Linked DNA regions of Homo sapiens. The protein of the gene in region 1 interacts with the protein of each later gene in a biochemical or structural test. Each region holds a gene or a part of one and is shown on either strand. Other genes may lie near its edges.

Evidence for each region.
Region 2: of the proteins of OBI1 (region 1) and ORC5, one has a biochemical effect on the other in vitro, tested with the Homo sapiens proteins (one study listed by BioGRID).
Region 3: of the proteins of OBI1 (region 1) and ORC3, one has a biochemical effect on the other in vitro, tested with the Homo sapiens proteins (one study listed by BioGRID).

The regions. Positions count from the first base shown.
Region 1 is NC_000013.11:78,649,053-78,656,165, forward strand, and holds part of OBI1 (ORC ubiquitin ligase 1), read right to left. Parts: intron 1-7,113. UniProt on the Homo sapiens protein: E3 ubiquitin ligase essential for DNA replication origin activation during S phase.
Region 2 is NC_000007.14:104,162,947-104,170,059, forward strand, and holds part of ORC5 (origin recognition complex subunit 5), read right to left. Parts: intron 5,580-7,113; coding exon 5,527-5,579; coding exon of another isoform or gene 5,429-5,526; exon of another isoform or gene 5,243-5,428; intron 3,939-5,242; coding exon 3,826-3,938; intron 2,337-3,825; coding exon 2,289-2,336; intron 1-2,288. UniProt on the Homo sapiens protein: Component of the origin recognition complex (ORC) that binds origins of replication. DNA-binding is ATP-dependent. The specific DNA sequences that define origins of replication have not been identified yet.
Region 3 is NC_000006.12:87,586,133-87,593,247, reverse strand, and holds the start of ORC3 (origin recognition complex subunit 3), read right to left. Parts: upstream 3,114-7,115; 5' UTR 3,080-3,113; coding exon 3,056-3,079; intron 1-3,055. Other genes in the region: RARS2 (probable arginine--tRNA ligase, mitochondrial isoform 3 precursor), read left to right, coding at 3,291-3,326. UniProt on the Homo sapiens protein: Component of the origin recognition complex (ORC) that binds origins of replication. DNA-binding is ATP-dependent. The specific DNA sequences that define origins of replication have not been identified yet.

The DNA.
Region 1 (7,113 bases):
AAAGCAGATTTCGCACAAGGTAAAAATCAAGAATTCTGTTTTAGCCATGCTAAATTTGTGATGCTAAGCCCATTTTTAAGTGGACAAGTTCAACAAGGCAGGTTTTGAGTCACTGCCATAAAAGACATGAGCATATAAGGCCATAGGACTGGAGGAGATCTCATGAATGGACAAAACAGCTGGAGAAAAGAAGGCACTCCAGCAAGCAAAGGAAGAGGAAGAGCAACCAGCAGAGGAAACTGACAAGGAGGGGTCCTGTGATGTAGGAAAGGAGAATATGATATCACAGAAGTCAAGGCAAGAAAGTTTTTCAAGAGAGAGGCAGCGGCCAGATAAGTAAAATATTGATGTGAGATTGAGTTTGATGTGCACTGAGATGTGACTATGGGATTTAACTGCTTGGAAGTCACTCTGATCAGTTACCGACAAGCACTGTTTCAGCGAATGTTGGGGATGGAAACCTGACTGGAGGTTGAGAGACAATGAAAGATGAAGAAGTGAAGACAGAAAATACAGACAATTCTTTCATGTTTTGCTGTAAAGGAGAGAGCATAAAAATGAGACGACGGTTAGGAATACCAATGGGAATGATAAAGAGAGGATATTAGTGATGGATGAAGAGTGATGGGGGTATTACAGCGATAGGCAACAAAGTCCCTAAGAAGTCAAGAGGGGAAAGGGATCCAAAGCACAAAAGGAGATTTTGGCACATACAGGAGTGAGGGTTTGTCTTCTTTTGCAACAGAAGGGAAAATAGGGGGTGTGTGAACAAACACAAAGGGGTTGGAAGATCTGTGGATGGAAAAATGAGGAAATTCATGTTCCCACTATCTCAGCTGCTTATCTTTTGTCATCAAATATGAGGTGAAGTTATCAGCTGAAAACGAGAAGGGAAGTGGGTTACAGATTTGAGAAGACAGGAGAATAAAGCAGTAATTTTGAAAAGTGAGAAAGCTAATTTACTAGGGATAGGTAGCAGATTGCTATACATTGTTGAGTTCCTTTTCCAGGTCTGTGGTTTCTAATGCAAAGTAAGATTAATTAACGTAGGTGTGTATTTTTCTTATCAATATTTAGCTGTGGAGACTCAGGAAGGAAGTAGATGAGTAGTTTGGTTTACCCAGAGTTGGGGTTTTGCCAAGGAGGAAGAGACAGGGACTGATGATAACAAATGACCACGAATAATAAGGGAAACAAGTACACAAGCGGTAATGATAACAGTGAAAAAGTGATAGGGTCAACAAAAATGTCTCCATGAGGTTGAAGTAATGGTAGAGAATAAGTATGATAGAAACAGGATCAGAGAGTGGGATGCTTATAGTCAAGATACTAAAGGTGGTATAACTGCCTTCTCTAATGTTTTGTTCTGGGCCATCTTATCTGATGTGTTCTATTTTCTCTCTCAATCTCATGTGTCACATGGCATTAACATCTATTCTATGCTGACAACTCCCAAGTCTCCCTCTGTAACTGGAGTCAGTAAGTGGCAGAGCTTAGGCTCTGACAGACAAACCTGGGGCCAACTCCAGTTCTGCCATTTATTGAGCAGTCTGACCTTGGGTAAGCCCTTTAGCTACTGTGGGCATCAGTTTCTGCCTCTGAAAACTGTGGCTTAACCTAGTAACCTTTTCATTCAGGTTTAAGATAATATAATGGATGTCAGCACAGACACTTCTACATAGCAATCCCTCAAAAAAAAAAAAAAAGGTAATATTACTATATCCAAGTGCCTAGGAGCCGACTACATATAAGGATCCTGCAGCTGCCTCAACCATAATTTGGCCTCCACTACACACTTGCTCCTCTTCCTGCACACCCTCCCACCTAAGTTAATGAGATCACTACTTCTCCACTTGAGCTACAACAGAGCTATCTCTGAATCACTCTTTTTACTTATCCTCACCATCCAAACTGTCACCAGACGCTGGTATTATACATTAAGTCTAAGAAGCCACAGATTTGAAGATTCACCAATATTTTATGTATCACTAAGAATGAAAAACTGTCAATTACAATTGTTAAGATACAATCAGATTCCAGAGATGTTATAATTTGAAAAAAAATGTACATCTCAGAATAGTCAAAACATGACAAATCTACCTCCAAACATTCTTTCACCTCTCATCTATCCTTTCCTTTGCATCTTCACCCCAATGAATTTAAGGTTCTCATTCTTTTGTCTTTGATCTACTGCAATGACCACCTCCCAAGCTTCCAAATGTTCATTTCAGTACATCTTTCACAATGATGCCAGAGCTACCTTCCTAAAATATGAATAAGCAGCTTTCACTCCTCTCCTACAAAACAGTAATGATTTTTTTCCTGCTCATAGTTCGAGGTATAGCCTTCAAAGAACATAATCTAATTCTTAAACAGCCATTTCCCTTGACCTACCATTTCAATATTTGACACAATGCACACTTCAACCTCACAGGTCTACTTATGTTCACCAATAAGAATATGAACACTGGGGGCTCCCTGTTTATGGGGCTCCCTATTTATAGAGCTTCCATTTCTCAGCTTGATATATCCTCCTGGTCTCTCCATCCTCCTGACAGTAATAAAAAAAAAATTCCTTCCCTCCTTTTAAGATGCAAATAAAATGCCACCTCCTCTGCAAGCCCTTCATTAATCTTTTTCAGAATTAACCAAGTCTTTGATAGGGCACTCTCTGTTCATTTATTTAATGTTCACCTCTTTCTGCATTGTGCTGTACTTAGAAACTGCTTACATCCTGTCTTCCTTATTAGATTTCAGGCTCACTGACAATAGGGTGAGTGTCCTTCTCATCTCTAACAACTGCAAGATTAATAAAAGTGAATTTTGATGTACTATAATGAAAGGCTGAGATAACAATCCTAAAAGTGCTTCAAGCAGCAAAAGGTCAACAGCCACTGTCAAACTGTAAAAAAGCAAAAGTTTAACCTCCCCATTTAATATGACAAAATGATACAGAACCACCACCACAGGCCGACTGCTTGGCTCTGTCTGCTAAGAGTCATTAACAATGTCACCCACAGGAAAGTTTTCTGCACCTTTGGATACCTGGTATTATCACCACCTTTGTGTTGGGAAGATTTCGGAAACAGGTGACTAATTCATTTCTTTGGAAATGAATATTGGAATGAGTATTTATCAGATGATGATTTCTAGACAACTCAATGAATTTATCTTACGAGAATAGAAATTTCTAAAGAACTACTAAAACAAGTTACTTGTTATATATTTGACTGTAATCTGTGGTAGCAAAACACAAAGAATCTAGCACCCATCCTCTTCTACCCAGATCCTGCTCTGGGTAGAACAAAACACACACATAATTTTCTTTAATAAGATCTTCCCAAGACAAAAAAAAAAAGGTCATCATTTGTCACATTATTAGACTTTCTATCCAATTTACTCTCAAATGAGACCCGTGGCAATAAAACAGTACTCATGAAATAAAAATGCAAGACAAAAAAATGGCAATGGTAAGTGACATACAATTCCAAACTCATCTGGAGTAAGCATAGTAAAGTGGTATCCTAGGGAGCGGTCCCCAACCTTTTTGGCACTAGGGACTGGTTTCGTGGAAGATAATTTTTCCACAGACTGGGGGGTTTCACCTCAGAACATCAGGCATTAGACTCTCCTAAGGAGCACACAATCTAGATCCCTTGCATGCACAGTTCACATTTGGGTTCATGCTCCTATGAAAATCTAATGCTGCCTCTGATCTGACAGGAGGCAGAGCTCAGGTGGTAATACTATCTCACTCCCTGCTCGCCTTCTGCTGTGCAGTCCTGGTTCCTGATAGGCCACTGACTGAACAGTACCTGACTGAGACTGGAGACTCCTGCCCTAGGGTATATCCCCCAGGTGTAAAGGATGGGCTCTTCTTACTGGAATGGGCCTGAGGGGGCAGTTCTTGGGGCAGATATATTAACCTTACAATCTGTTACTCTGATATTTCATTTCTTTTAAAGATGTTCCAGTCTTAAGAGAGTCCACTCTACCACCAAATCCCCTTTCTTAAAAAAGCAAGTATACTTGGGCAGAGACATGCCTAAGGCTGTTGTTCATTAATATCCATATCATCCTAGACTTACCCACTAGGAGTTACACATTGGCTTCAAACAGCGTTTCTCAACTTTGACATTACTAACATTTTGGACTGAAGAAAGTCTTGTTTTAGGCGGTTCCCTGCATATTACAGGATGTCTGGCTAGCAGCATCCCTGGGCTCTACCCACTAGATGCCAGTAGCAGCCCCTTGAAAACAATGAGAAATGTCTCCACACACTGCCCCATGTCCCTGGGGGACAAAATCTACCTCCACCTAGTTGAGAACCACTAGTATGGTATAGTCAAAGGAATCTTACTAATAAGCTAGTGGGGCTGTTGTATCAAATCCATTTTCAGTTGTGGAAACTGAGACTCTAAGAAATAATGATACAGGTTATAAATGGTAGAGCTAGCATTTGTACTCAATGTGATTCAACTGCAAAATCATGTGTTCTTTCAACTAAGAAACAGTTCTTTCTTCCTTGGAGCAGGGTTAGTGAACAATAATCTGGGAGAAATAAATACAGGACGATGTGCCTGAAGGAAGTGAGATCCTGGACACTGATGGAGGTGATGGGAGTGAAGACGGTATTGATGAACTTTACCAACTGGTCTTGCAATTATATCTATTATAAAACCAACTCCCCTGCTCTTCTGGCATCCTCCCCTCACTAGAGACAAGAGCCAACTGTGCTTCTAGAAAGAATATTATTCTTTCTTGCACCTTGTCAAAACTTTATCGGTTTCTCTAGTGAAGACCTGGAAAGACTATGTAAAGGATTAGTCTTCAGTGTAAAAATGACTATGGTAGGGGCACCACTACTTCAACATTAGGAATTTGGAAACTTTCCAAAATAAAATTCCTGGATAGCTCTTGGTTATGTTTTAAGAAATCCCTGGTTCTGGGCCAGAATTTAGGTCCTATAACTTAAGGAAAAAAAAAAAAAAAAAACCTGTGTGAAATAAGTCACTTAATGCCTATAGAACTGGTTCCCCATTCCTGTCTAGGTAAAAGGAGAGATGATACATCTCTTCTCTTCTACCTTCATCCCTACCAGAAATGCTTTGGGATAAACTGGAATTGTACTTGTCAAGTAAGTATGTCAGCTATTACATACCAACCCTGATAATTACTAGGATACATCTACGATTTTTGAATTAACTTATTATACACTATGTATAAAATGCAATATTGTTATACTTTTCTGAAAGTGAATCCTTCAAACTTATTTTCAACTGGAAAAAAGAGAAAAATGTAGAACTTGCAGTCCATATGGCTTTTTTTCAAAGCAAATTACTTATGACAATTATGTACAAGGCTGGTTCTTAAATCCACTCTTGGGAACTGAGAGGCAATCAGGACTCAAACATGGGCTCCATGTACTGACGTGGATGACTTGCTGATCAATCAACAGCTCCAAGTGAACAGTGATTAATGAATTTTGTCATCCTAGAGTGAGGACTCTAAGTTGCATAAGGCTTTGTCTCTAGCCCTATATTTTCAATATTTTAAATAAACAATATGGGTGAGAAGAAGAGAGGCATCCCTGAAAGAAGGGATCCTTTTGATAGCATTCCTTATGGGAAACAGTCAGTCTACTAGAGGATACTCCAAGACACAGGAACTCCTGCATTATAAGGAAGCTGATTTCATTTCTGGTTATTTCAGCCAGAACACTTGCCCTTAATATTAAGTAGAAATCATAATTTTATGGAGCCACACAAGGCTTGAGTCCCTTCCAAATGAAAAATATTTTAATTAAAGATTCCCTATCATATCCATTCATTCCAGCACTATTCCAGTCCACCTACATTCCAATCCCAATTTCATTCTCCCCCAAATGTTTTCAAAATACTCTGGTTTATTGTTTATCTTAAAGGGTAGGACCCAAAACTGGACTCATAGTCGAATGAGAAATAACTGAATATGATACATTAATGCTGAAAAGCATTAGTTGCTTTGCATTTCTCTTGAGAATCTCCTTCACCCTTTCATAAAACCAACTGCGGGCCACATTTGGCTTTCACTCATGGCAAAATGCATGCACGGCCAATAAAAAGTATTACATGCCATAATTTGGTTTCACAGCTTGAGTCCCAATTGAAAAGATAAACCCTGGAATTATCTAGAGGTAAACTGGTTTGTAACAGCCTGGTGGCACTATCAAAATGTCACTTAACAGATACTCTGGGATAGATCATTACTACATTTCTGCTTGCTGGCCCACTAGTTTAAGAAACAAACAAACAAAAAAAAAACAGGGAAGAATAGGTAAGAAAATATGTTATGCGTAAATCATCCCATGGGATGGTACCTAACTTCTTCAGGCCACATAGAGCTCTTACTTACAATATTGGCAAAGTAACTAAAAACATTATTGGGTAGAGAAAATTCACCTTTAAAACTGAAGTAGAGACAGAGGTGTAAATTTTCCAATTTTAAGTGCAAAGACAAAGCATTAACAGGTGAATACCTGGGCTCTCTCTCCTTCCTCTCCATCCCCACTGGCATCTATCTCTTCAGATTTAATGCCCTGCCCTCATCTCTCCCCCTTCATGGTATCCACCTTGTGACCCTCCAGGGATAATGGTCCTTAATTCTGTTGAATAATCAAAAGAGAAGATGCTGACTGTGAGATCTGGGGACATATGGTAACAGTAGCACAAGAACAATTATCTTTAAAAAAGAGCTAGGCACGAAGGACCTTAGGAACATTCTTAGAAGTGGCCAGAGATGCTCTATGTCAGGGAAGCAGAAGCGAACCTGAGGACACGCCAGTTTTAGTATCTCACAGTATAATACGTGTAGGAGGGTGAGCAGCACAATCATACTGAATTTGCTTTCACTATAAAAAAGAAAAGAGACATGGAACCAGCTGAAAATTCTGGATGTACTGTGGCAATTTCCAGAACAAACAGGTCTCATTTGGTTGGGAATGCAAATCTTCATTTTGAAGTGCTCCAGCCTCACAAAGCAACTGGGAAGAACAATTACTGGAAAAGGCTGGTTTCCTCAGTTTGAGGGCTGGCCTCAATGGCTATAGTAAAAGCTAACAGTTATTAAACATTA
Region 2 (7,113 bases), on another chromosome or scaffold:
TATCATTTGGAACATACCTCTCTACCAATTGCTTTTTGAGATTTATCCATATAGATACATGTAGCTCTAGTCCATTTTTAAATTACCTTACAGAATTCCATTTTATGACTACTTAAAAAAATTCATTATTACAAATAATCCTGTGACTGATAATCTTGTACATTTCTCCTTGTGCACATGTGTGAGTTTCTCTAAGTAGGATTGCTGGATTAAAGCACAAGGCAGAGTCAGTGCTATGTGTCTGCCAACACTGTTTCTTCTCTGACACACAAGAAGACTACATTTCTCAGTCTCTCCTGCAGTTAGATAGAGGTCACGTAACTGGGTTCTGCCAGGCCAATGAAATATGAATAGAAGTGATGTAAACTACTTGCAAGCCTAGTCTTTCACCTTCTTTCCCTTTAGTGGCAACTTCAGAGGCCACAATGTTTCACTTCATATCACTATGAGATGAAAGAGGGTCACTCAATTCACAGTTATGTTGTAAGCAACATAAAAACTTCTGTTGTGTAAAGCCACCATGGTTTGGGGGGTTTTGTTTTGTTTGTTTGTCTGTTTGAGAAGGAGACTCACTCTGTTGCCCAGGCTGGAGTGTAGTAGCGTGATCTCGGCTCACTGCAAGCTACGCCTCCCAGGTTCACGCCATTCTCCCGCCTCAGCCTCCCAGGCAGCTGGGACTACAGGCGCCCACCATCATGCCCGGCTAATTTTTGTTTTTGTATTTTTAGTAGAGCCGGGGTTTCACCATGTTAGCCAGAATGGTCTCGACCTCCTGACCTCGTGATCCACCCGCCTCGGCCTCCCAAAGTGCTGGGACTACAGGTGTGAGGCACCCCGCCCAGCCGGGATTTGCTTTTTACTACAAGCATAGCTAGTCTATCCTAATATTAACATATTAACTTCACATATTAACTTCAGTAGATATTGTCAACCTGCAGAACAGGCAGACTCTCGCTCTTCTACATTATCTCCAGCACTTGAAATCATAGAATTTTTTAGTTTTGTCAAACCAAGAGTATGAAATATCTCACTGTTGTTTTAACTTTTTCTCTCATTAGTGAATAAGGCTGTTAATCATGTCATGATTGTTAGACATTCAGGTTCCTTATTGTATCATTTATCCATTTTGCTATCGAATTTTTGTCCTTTTCTTATTGGTTTGTAATGAGTCTTTAAAAATTCGAGACATTAGGTTGGGCATGGTAGCTCATGCCTGTAATCCCAGCACTTTGGAAGGCTGAGAGGAGTGGATCATTTGAGACCAGCCTCGAACTCCTGGGCTTAGATGAGTCCCTGGTGAAACCCTGTCTCTACAAAAAATACAAAAATTAGCCAGGCACAGTGGCGTGTGCCTGTAGTCCCAGCTACTAGGGAGGCTGAGACAGGAGGATCACTTAAGCCCAGGAGGTTGAGGCTGCAGTGAGCCATGATCACGCCATTGCACTGCAGCATGGGTGACTGAGACCCTACCTCAAAAACAGATAAATAATAAAAATTCTAAACGTTAACCATTTGTCTATTGTAGGAGTTCAAGAACAGTGGTAAACATCATCGTAGGCTTTGGAGTCAGGAAGTCCTGGAATTGAGCAAAACTGCCTCTAAGAATAAGGGAAACAAAACTTGCAGTTTCTATAGTGCAGAGTTTATATTTCAAAATTCTCCATCTTCTGACAAGAAAAGCAACAGTGGTTTGGACATACAAAGTGGAAGAAGTGATCTAAATAGTCTAAATGCTTCTTTCACCAGTTTCAACCTTATCTGACCCCACCTTCAAAAGTACTTAGTGCTTCTAATCCCTAAGCTTTTTTCCAGATTCCTAAGGCCAAATTAGCTAAGTTTGAGGCTTAGGTTTTAGCGTTTTCTCTAATCTGCTTGGTCACCTCAATATCTACCTACCATGCAATTGCAAATTCTGGGGGTCTCTCATCTGCTTAGTATTTATGAGTTTACCTTTTTTATTTGTTGTGGGTGCTTCAAAGGGGAAAGAAAAGAGGAAAATGCCTGTATTCAATTGGCTGTATTTAACTAAATAATCCAGGGTAAACTTCTTCATCTACTAAGTCACTAAAAAACTTTGTCAACTCAGTTTTAAACTCCAGCAGCAGCTCACCTAAATGTGCATTCAATCACTATATTCAATATAACAAAATTCTATTACAGTATAACGGTACCATATCAACACAAATAAGTTCCTATATTCAAATGACAAATACAATTACAGATGTATCTATTTCCTATATTATCTTCATTTCCTAAGTTTCTTCCATTAGAAATTAAAATGTAAATACCTTTTCGTGTTTTTTTAGAAAGTTGGTTTTCTTGATTTTTCCATGATGCTGCAATTAAGGAAAACAAATTTTAAGTTGAAAAGACAGTATTCCACAAAACCAGAAAACGTTATTTATTTAAAACATGGCACACATAATACTAATCTGTATATCTCAGGTTTTTAAATAGTTATTCTTCTTATCACCTTGTATATATATTAGACTTCAACATATTTTAGGCCAATTTCGTTTAGACTTGGATTGGATATAAAATTACTTTTGCATGTAAAAAAAGAATTTCTAAAATAAAATAATGACATTTCCTAAAAGAGCTTATTATATTGATTTAGTTCAGCATATACATTGCTATAAAAATGAAACTTCCAGAGATATGGATTTTTATTCATCCCATAAGTCTGGCAATCCACATAATAAACGCTGACGGAGGGCATTTTAGTTAAGCACAGTTCACATAATAAACACTGATTGAGAGCATTTTAGTTAGGCACTCAGGATTCAATAGCAGGGGAAAACAATAGATGTGGTCCTTGCCCTCTAGAAACTAAAGAGGGTCAGGTACAGTGGCGCACACCTGTAATCCTATCACTTTGGGAGGCCGGAGTGGGAGGATGACTTGAGGCCAGGAATTTGGGACCAGCCTGGCCAACATGGCAAAACCCTGTCTCTACCAAAAACATAAAACTTAGCCAGGCGTGGGGGCACACACCTGTAATCCCAGCTACTTGGGAGGCCGAGGCTGTAGTGAGCCAAGATCACACCACTGCACTCTGGCCTGGGTGAGAGTGACACTCTGTCTCAAAAAAATAAAAAAAAATAAAGTCCTGAAGAGTAGCACAAGACATGACAAAAAAATGAATAAATATAAATTGTTGTAAGTCCAAAGAAGAAAGCAAACATCATGTGAAATAGGAAACAATAAAGAGGACCTACTTTAAGATAGGTTGTACAGGGAGAACTGCTTTGAGAAGGCAATATTTAAACTGAAGCATGAAGAATGAGTAGAGAAGGAGCTTTCCAGAAAGACAGAACATACAGACAAAGACCTTAAGGTAGGAAAGAGATCAGAATGTTTTGAGGAAAGAGGAAAAAGGAAAAAGTCTAAAGTGACAAGAACATAGTGGGTAAAGAAGAAGAAAAAAACAACTCTAAACTGGGATTTCTCCAACTAATGTATGTACAGGAGAGGCTCCTTCAGTGTGATGGATAATTATTCACTACAGTGAGTTTTAGAACAACAAAGAGTTACCGCTCTTAAAATTATTTCCATCCTCCACACTTTAAACAAAACCCTATGTATTTTTTAAATCTGAATTATTACCTAAGGTATACCTGATATCCTCTTTTCTATGAAACTGCCTACCTTTTCTCAAATTTGAGGTTGTGACATTAATGTAAAGCCTTTAAAGAATGAGTCCTAAATACATATTTGGCAATCTTATTCTAATCTCTTCCCCTTAGAAATTTACAAGTGTTAAGAAATTTCAAAATATTCCTGGGATCTTAAAAAATAAAGTGAAAAGAAGTATGTTATTATTACCTTAAGAAAAAACCTCTTGTCAGTTCTTGCTGGATTGTATGAAGCAAGGTATGCAGCAATTAGAATGAACTTAGAGTAATATGGAAGTTCCACATGAGTATGCGCTGAGAGGCCTATATAACAAAACACTTTGATGAAGTACTTATTAGGCTAACATTGGGTTTTAAGTATCTCTTCTCACTTGACTTTTCATTTCCATATGGTATTCTCTAGTCAAAATGACCTATTTCCTTATTTTAAAAAGTGTCATGATAATGATGGTCGTGGTGGTGATCAACACTATTATTAATGACAGGCTTTACTCAATCTATTATTTTTGCTTGGCTCTTCTCATTCTGAAGTCTAAATCCTACTCGTTCTTCTCTTCAAGGCCACGCTCTCCATTAAACCCCTGGTGTTCCCCTACCACACCAAAATAGAGAAACTTATTTCTACTATGAATTCCTACTCTGAGTATTCCCACATAACGTGATGCCTTATATTAACAGTTAACTGTACAGGTTGAGTATACTTTATCTGAAATGCTTGGGACCAGAAGTGTTTTGGATTTTTTCAGATGTTAGAATACTTGTATATGCCAGTTGAACATCCCTAAATTCTGAAAAATCAAAGAAAACAAGCATTTCCTCTGAGCTTATGTCAGCACTCAGAAAATTTTGGAGCATTTTCTATTTGGAAGTTTTGGATTCAGAATGCTTAACCTGTACATAAATCATACCCCTTAGTAAACAATACTATTTGTTGAAGGAGCTATGTCTAATGTTTTTTTGTATCCCTACACTGCCTTGCACATAGAAAATAACTGATGAATGGATAAATATTAAAACAGTAGGGTCATTCAAGTAGCACTGATTCTTAAGGGAAGGGAAGGAATCTGATATTTACTGAAAATCTACTATGTGTCAGACACTGTGTTAGGTGCTTTACTTAAGCATCACTTTGAATCTTTGCAGTAATGCTAAATATTCTTCCTATCTCACAAGTGAAAAATTGAGCTGGGTTCAAGGTCAAACAGATAGAAAGTAGTGCAAATCAATTATTACAGATTTGTTCTAACTCTGGCATCTATCCCTTTTCCTAAAAACACACAACTAGAAGTCACTTGTAAAGCATCTGGAACACATAAAAACCAAAAAAACACAAAACAGCACTATTTCATACCATTTTCTTTAACCATCAGCCACTGACTTTTAAAAAAAAATTTTTTTTCAATATTTGCTCATTTTTTTAAGTAAAATTAGTTCTATTTAATATTTGGGATGAATCCAAAGTAGTAGTTTTCTTAAACAAAAGCACAATGTTTTCAAAACATAACCACCAAAGTGCATATCCCAAACCGATTAACATAAAATTACATTTTATTCCATAAAACTCATGAAATATAAACATAATGAGATAAAACTGTCACATAATTAGATTGCTTTAATAAAAGCATTTAAAGAAATAGAAACTGCTTGATTTTCATGATATAATCCAATATTTAGAAAATAGAAAGCTGGTATTCAAACTTTTATTTCCTCCCATTAAATTAGAGCTTCAGTTAAAGAAAAATCATTAATCAAAATAGCATTATAGCTTGAAAAGTAAATTCTCTTTTATAACACTATTTCCTGACTGAATGCTCTTTAGTATTAACTTTAGTATCTTGATAATTAGCTGAAGAAGTATCTCCGGTAACTGTCTCAATACTTCCTCTGATACCTTTCAGTTGCCCCGGATCTGTGTCATCTTTCTGTAGCTTTTCCCACTGGGAACTGAAAAAAAATAGAAGAGCAAAAATGAATTAAAAATAAATAAAATCAATATGGTGTACTTAAAACAGAGCCCTAGAAAAACTAAATTTTTTTATTTATTAACAAAACAGAAAAGAAAAATATATACATGCAATAAACATGTTTGTACCTGTACAAAATAATTTAATGTATATATTAGAATGTCATAAATTTATAAAGCAATACCTAGATATTAACTATTTTAATAATCTCTTTTACTATGATGACTGTTGTAGCTATCAAAAAACTTCACCCAGGCCGGGTGTGGTGGCTCATGCCTGTAATCCCAGCACTTTGGGAGGCCAAGATAGGAGGATCACATGAGGCCAGGAGTTCAAGCTCAGCCTAGGCAACATGGGGAAACCCCATCTCTATTAAAAATACAAAAATTAGCTGGGTATGGTGGCGCATGCCTATACTCCCAGCTACTTGGGTGGCTGAGGCACGAGAATCACTTGAACCTGGGAGGTGGACGTTGCAGTGAGCTGAGATTGTGCCACTGCACTCCAGCCTGGGCGAGAGTGAGCCTGTCTTTAAAAAAAACAACAACAAACAAAAAACCAATAAATACTACCACCTACCACTCGGTAAAACTCCCAATGTTCTAGTTACCGTATTAGATGCAATTGTCATATACTATTTCTAAACTCTATAGCAATCCCTCAAAGTAGGTATCACACCAGAAAACTGAGGCTCAAAGATTAAGTCACCCAAGGACATTTAGCCAGTCAATACTAGAGCTACGAGTCGAATCCTTGTAGGATGCTTGCAGAGTTCAAGGTATTTTAATTGCCCCATCCTGGACTTATTTGCAATTAAAACTGTTAAACAACCAAAACACTATTAAGAATATGAAGTGATTATGACACGACAAATTGAATTTATAAGGCAACACACTATAGTATAATGAGTAAAGAATGCCCTACGACAGTTTTAGCTGCATGACTTCGAAAAAATGAATAGTTTACTCATAAAAAAAAATAAGGCAGTTTGATGCAAAGGTGCTCACCAACTCTAAAACTCTCACAGAACTCTTAAAAATGAGCTAATTTACAGGGCTAATTTAAAAATAATGCCAGATTAGAACAATTAAATATCCAAAATCTGCATGAAGAACAGGGTGGAAGTGATAAGGATGAGTGTGGGCCTTCTTTGAGTATACTTTAAAAAAAGTAGTTTTAGCTTTTGAAGTATTCTTTGATGCCCATCTCTCACCTGTATAGCAATCAACAAGTTTAATTTTCCCCTTTCTCTTTTCCTTCTTTTCCCAATTTTTAAGTTGTAATATTCCTACCTTGTCAGAATACATAATATTTACATACTATTCTTCTACTCTTATTTCCACCTTAATTTTAGTTTGGAGCTAAGCTTAATTAAATTCAATGTTCATCATCAATCCTTTTGTTAGTTTCTCCAGTCATCTCTTTTTCACATCAAGGTCGTCCTAAGAAATGTCTTATGAGTAGTGTTCTCTGAGTTCTTCCATGTTTAATATTGTTTTTCTCTAGCCTTGATA
Region 3 (7,115 bases), on another chromosome or scaffold:
GTCCTGGTAATTTCCCAGCTATGTTTAGTTTCATATTATTGTTTGACCAGTGGTAGATCACCCCCAAGTTAGTGGTCCTAGTCTATTCTACCAATTCTAAAGTCATACATGATGGATAGCTTATAGTTTTTTTTTGTTTGTTTGTTTGTTTTTTTGAGACAGAGTCTCGCTCTGTCGTCCAGGCTGGAGTGCAATGGTGCGATCCTGGCTCACTGCAACCTTTGCCTCCCGGGTTCAAGCCATTCTCCTGCCTCAGCCTCCTGAGTAGCTGGGATGACAGGTGCCCACCACCATGCCTGGCTAATTTATTGTATTTTTAGTAGAGACGGGGTTTCACTATGTTGGCCAGGCTGGTCTCGCACTCCTGATCTCGTGATCCATCCGCCTCGGCCTCCCAAAGTGCTGGGATTAGAGGCATGAGCCACTGCACCCGGCCTGATGGATAACTTCTTAAATATTTCGATTTCTATGGAAAATAAAAGACAGAATGAAAGAACGATACCTAGGAAAAGTTGTCTCAGGATAGTGTTAAAGACCGCTGTGCAACTATAAAGTAGCCATTTGGATTACATGTTCCCATTTAAGAACTGTGCCTTAGATTCTTTTTTCTGCTATTGTTGAGACAGAGTCTCCCTCTGTTGCCCAGGCTAGAGTGCAATGGCACAATCTTGGCTCACTGTAACCTCTACCTCCCGGGTTCAGGCGATTCTCCTGCCTCAGCCTCCTGAGAGGCTGGGATTACAGGCGCCCACCAACATGCCAGGCTAATTTTGTATTTTAGTACAGATGTGGTTTCACCATGTTGGTCAGGTTGGTCTCGAACTCCTGACCTCAGATGATCCACCCACCTCGGCCTCCCAAAGTGTTGGGATTACAGGCATGAGCCACTGCACACAGCCCTGTGCCTTATATTCTTATATCTGCAACTAGCAGAAGTGTGCGAAATCACATACATATTTAGAAAAATCATGTGATACCATGACAAACCTGTCATTACCTCCTTTCCAAATCCACCTGCAATTCAGTAAAGGAAAAAGGAGCTTCAAAGGAGCAAGACATGAGGAGTGATCAGAAAGGATCTTAATATAGGGCAGTGGTAGTAACATGGTTAACCATTTGGAACTGCTGGTCAAGTGATGGTGTTTGAGATAGAGGAAGGCCAACAGCCAGAAAATTTCACGATGAAAGAGACACTAAAATGTTTTGATATGTTTAAGGACCGGGCGTGGTGGCTCACGCCTGTAATCCTAGCACTTTGGGAGGCCGAGGCTGGCGGATCACTCGAGGTCAGGAGTTCGAGACCCGCCTGGCCAACATGGTGAAACCCTGTCTCTTCTAAAAATACAAAATTAGCTGGGTGTAGTGGGGCATGTCTGTAATCCCAACTGCCCGGGAGGCTGAGGTGGGAGAATAGCTTGAATCGGGGAGGTGGAGGTTGCAGTGAGCCGAGATCGCGCCACTGCACTCCAGCCTGGTAACAGAGCAAGACTCTGTCTCAAGAAAAAAAAGAAAAGAAAAAGAAAAAAAGCTTGCAGTTCCATAAATTCATGAAATAGTTCTTAAAGCTTCTTATTCATGTAAGGTCTCATCCCAATACAGACATTTGTTATAATACCAAAAATGCTTTCCTGAAAAATCTTACTTTCTGCAAGATACATAAAAATAAGAGGTGCTTATGCAATCAACAGGATTAAGGGATAGACCATTCAAAACCTACAGAACATTATAACCAGGACAAAATAAAACCAGTACCATTTCTAATAAAAATACTACCTTTGAATCTCTACTAGCATAACCTTAAACCCCAGGGCTTGTCCTTTTTCCTTGAGATGTAGTCTTTAAAAGCACTGCTTCTCATAAACCGTTTTAATCAAAATAAAAAATCAGATCCATGACATAGCCTTCTTCATCAATCCATTGTTTTAACATAGGGAGAATGTAGCTTCTTCATGTGCATTTTTCAGCTTTCTCAGACAGCTTAACTTCAGGGGCTTCCCGCTGCACTTACAATAGAACTCAAGGTCTTACTTTTTGTGGTCCAGAACAGCGCTGTCCAACAGAACTTTCTGTAATGATAGAAATGTCCTATATCTGCACTATCTAAAATGGTAGCTGCAGCCACATGTGATGATTGAGCACTTGAAATGTGGTTAGTGCAACGGAGAAACTGAATTTTTATTTAATCTTACTTTATTTTAACTCAAATTTAAATAGCCACATGTGGTGAGTGACTAACACATTGGACAATACAGCTCTAGGGCTTATCTTCTTACCAACTACACTATGTCTTGCAATTTCTTGCCATCTAGGTAGCCAACATGAGGAGGTCTATAAGATATCCCACCACACACACCCGCATCCACATTACTTTTTCATTCTCATTTTTCATGACGCTCCCACTCTTTGTCTACTTTCTGATTATGATTTTTAAATTCCTCTAATATGCCATTTTATTTCTATCTTCTGGGCCGAAGAAACATGCTGTTCTCTCTGCCCTCCTCGCCCTAATCCTTAACCTAACTTCTACTCATTTTTCAGGTCTCAGCGAAAGGGTCACTTTCTCCAAAAAGCCTCCGCTAACCCCCGACAACCTATATTAGGTTCTTCCCACTCTTCTGTTGTCTGCCTAGAACTCTTTTCCTTGCTAACACTTAAAATTTGTGATCGTCAGTTTATCTATGTTTACCGACTTTCTTGACTGCAGAAACTGAATCTGTTTTGTTTACCACTGCATCTTGGTACCTAACGGAGTGCTTGGCGCACAGTATTTGTGAGATGGAAAAATGAGAGACTGGGCCACATCATCAGGACATCCGACCTCCACCAACCAGAACTTAAAAATCCTCCTAGCCATACCACAAGGCAGATCCGCGTCCTCGCTCCCCAAGCAAAGTTGGCCTCAACTGATCTGGAGCAAGGACGCCTCAGCTCAGTACGCCGCTCCCTCCCTCCTCTCCAGCCAGGGAAGGGATGCCTACGTAACCTCGGCTTCATCCCTTCTTCAAAGGGGAATGAGGCAGCGGTAGAGCCACAGTGCGCATCGGCCACCACATACCTTAGACATCGAGGACGTAGCCATGGTCTTACTGACTCTGCGTATTCCAGATGCACTCGGGATTTCCCGCGCGCCCTCGCGGCTGCAGGGCAGAGGTTAGTGGCGAGCCACACGGCTCCTTGATTGGCTGGCATCACCCTCCGGGGCGGGTTTCCGGCGCGGGGAGGCGGGTCGTATAAGGAGGTGGGGCGAGGCCGGAACTGGCGGACTGCGGCGCACTTCCGTAGAGGTGGACATGGCGTGCGGCTTTCGCCGCGCTATTGCTTGCCAGGTATGGATCCCGGAGCGCGCAGAGGAGTCCCTGAGGAGCTAGGGACCCCAAAGGCCTTTCACCGCTGCGGGCCAGTCCTCAGTCAGCTGGAGGGTGGGTCCCACGGAATCCTGTTAGTTTCTACCACCTCCTCCCCCTTCTCTGGAGCTGGTGGAGCTTCAGAAGTCCTGTGGAGCGTCGGCTGGGATCAGTTTGTCTCGGTGAAAAGTAAACTTTGAAAGGTACCTGGTGCTTTCTTCTCTCCTTCCCACCCCACAGCTATGAATGCTTTACCTGGGTGGCGGCAAGTCATTAGACCATGATTAGACCCCATAGAAGTTAGTGTTCTTTACACTTTAGTGACATTGATGATGGATCTGGATTGTTCTTCAGAAGGACCTCATTTTAAAGCTGCTTATTTCTCTTGCAGTCACTTAGGCAGCCTACCCTAGAATTGTTTTTGGTAACGCCCAAAGATATAAGAGCTATCTGAGACTCAGTTTTTCTTGGTTCAGGGTCGTATTTGAACAGCTCTGTTGTGAGGAAGGGCTTACAAAATTGCAATATAATTGCTTTGTTTTGTTTTTCCTTTTTGTGGAGAACGGGGTCTCGCCGTATTGCCCAGGCAGGCCTCAAACTCCTGGGCTCAAGCTGTCCTCCCTCCTCTGCTTCCCTAAGAGCCGGGATTACAGGCCTGAGCCACCGCGCTGGGCAAAATTGCAGTATAAATGTGGAATTAATCAAAAAGAATTTTTAAGACTCATTGGCCACCCTTGCAAGGAAACTTTCTATTGTGGTCTTGGCTAACCCATTTCCTTCTGATTAATGGATGTACTAGTGGACGTAATTAGCCTGGTGTATAATTTATCTTGGCTCATTTTTACAGTATTTCTAGACATTTGTGGGGAAATCCCTCTGCCTTGTCTTTATGTTTATAGATGTACTGCCCTGTCCGGTGATAATTCGCCAAATATCACCAACATGACATTTTGTTAAGACAGCTGAATTTATTGCTCACTGGGATAAGGAAGAACACCACTGAGAGCTTTGGTAGTGTATTAAACTGGGAAAGCAAGGTCAGATTTTACTGATGGGTATGGCTTAAGGCTGGTCTTTCAGAGGGAGAGGGTAGGAGGGTGTTGGAGGAAGATGGCTTGATTAGGGTTGGACTCTGATCTGATACAGCGGTTTAAGATTGATAGGAAAAGCAAAGAGTGCAAGAAGCCTTAAGGCATAAACTATTGAGGTTTTCTATTGGAAGAACTAATAGGCCTGGCATGTGGTTCATGCCTATAATCCCAGCACTTTGGGAGGCCAAGGTGGGAGGATGGCTTGAGCCCAGGAGTTCGAGACCAGCGTGGACAACATAGGTAGACCCCGTCTCAACAAAATTTTTTTTAAAAAGTAGCCAGGCATGATGGTGCACCTCTGTAGTCCTAGCTGCTTGAAAGGCTGAGTCTGGAGGATCACTTGGACGGACCCACGAGTTTGAAGCTACAGTGAGCTATGATTGTGCCACTGCACTCCAGGGTGGGTGACAGAGCGAGACCCTGTAAACAAAAAATAAAAATAAAAAACGTGAAAAGCTAATAGATTTCTCATGAAGTTCTTATAATGAATGATTAAGTTATTTGGGCAGAAGTCTTCTAGAACAGTAAAGTTATGCTAATGAAGACAAAAAATAATAAATTCATGTTAATGTAGACAGTAAACCATATCAGGGAAGGTAGTTTTGGACCTTAGTATCTAAGCTGTGTGTAAGGGTGGACGTTTTCCATTCTTAGCCCTTAAGTAAAGATAGTGCCATGATGAGAAACAAATTGTGTTTAGTTTTGCAAAGGCTGTGTTCTTTGTAAAGACTGTAAATTGGACCAGGCATGGTGGCTCACACTTGTAATCCCAGAACTTTGAGAGGCCGAGGTGGGAGGATCCCTTGAACTGAGACGTTCAAGACCAGCCTGGGCAACATAGGGAGACCCCCATCTCTATAAAGAAATAAAAAACAAAACTTAGGTGTAGTGGCACACACCTGTGGTCCCAGCTGCTTGGGAAGCTGAGGTGGGAGGATCGTTTGGGCCCAGGTGGCTGAAACTAGCAAGCTTTGATTGCACCGCTGCACTTCAGCCTGGGGGACAAAGTGAGTCCCTGTCTCAAAAAAAAGAAAAAGATAAGTTGGAGAAACAAGAACTAATATATTGAGTATATATTTGTGCTAGTTACTACACATTCACATTTAAGCTCATGGCAACCCTGTGATATAGAAGTATTAACCTTATTATATAATTGAGTCAGTTGAGATCCACAGAGATTAAATAACTTACCCAAAGCCACATCATCAATACATTGTAGAGTTGGTTTATGAACAGAACTCTAACTTTAAAATTAGATCTTTCCTATATACTGTGCTCTTTGTGAAAGCAAGAAGCACAGTCCAATCATTGAACAGAATCTAATGGATTTATACAGCAGTGTAAATTATGCAGATATATATGTATTTCTCTGAATATAGAGTCATTGGGGAATGATCTGAAACTTGAGGATAAATAATAATATTTTCAATACGTTAGGACATGGGGAAAAAAGAGCAAAGAAAAAACATGTTCCGTACAGTTTGAGCATCCCTAAGCTGGAAATCTGAAATGCTCCAAAATTTGAAACTTTTTGAGTGCTGACATGAGACTCAATGTTCATTGAGTTCATTGGAGCTCAATTGGAAATTGGAAATGTTCATTGGAGAATTCCAGATTTTCAGATTAGGAGCTGGGTATGGTGGCTCATGCCTATAACCCCAGCACTTGGAGAGACTGAGACAGGCAGATCACTTGAGCCCAAGAGTTCAAGACCAGCCTGGGAAACTAATTAGAAAATTAGTTGGGCATGGTGGCACCCTCCTGTAATCCCAGATACTTGGGAGGCTGAGGTGGAAGGATCACTTGAACCTGAGAGGTGGAGGTTGCAATGAGCCAAGATTGTGCCACTGAACTCCAGCGTGGGTGGTAAAGCAAGACCCTGTCTCAAAAAATAAATAAATAAATAAATAAATAAATAAATAAATAAATAACCAACCCCACAGATTTTCAGTTTAGGGATGCTCAACAGGTAAGTATAAAGCCAATATTCCAAAATCTGAAAAAATTCAAAAGTTGAAACACTTGTGGTCCCAAGGATACCCAGCCTGTATTTAATACCTTTGCGAATGAGCATCGTTTTGCTATAATAGTTTAGGAATGAAGGAATGTGTAACGTGCAATGGCAAATGCATTTAGCTAACTTTGATTAATTAGTCGACAGTTTTCTAAGCACTGTCATCAGTCCCAAGGCTAAAAGTGAACGGAAAATAGTTTCTGCCCTGAAATGGCCTCAGACATGCTTGGAAAACGATGTAAACCGGTAATTGCATTGCAGCCTGTAATCACTGTATTAGAAGCATGTGCAAAGTGCCAAGGGAACTTGAAAGCTCCTAAGGGTCAGACAAAGTTTTGTAGAAAGGTGATGTTAGGTCTCAGTTTTGAAAGGGATATGGGTAGGAGTGTGCCAAGTAAATAGAGTGAGAGCTTGGGGAGAGGTCAGGTATTGCAAGAGGAGGATGTGCATAGACACAGACATCTGGAAAGCATGATATGTACATAGAATCACAATATTTGGATTCCTTTCTTCAGCAAGTCCTGTTGATTTTATCTTTATATCTTGAATCCATCTACACTATTGCTGCTGCCTCCCCCTCTCCTTTCTCTATTCCACACCAAGCCCCCATTATCACCTATATTGACTGCTTACAACAGCCTTCTGATGGGGTGTTTGTTTCCATTC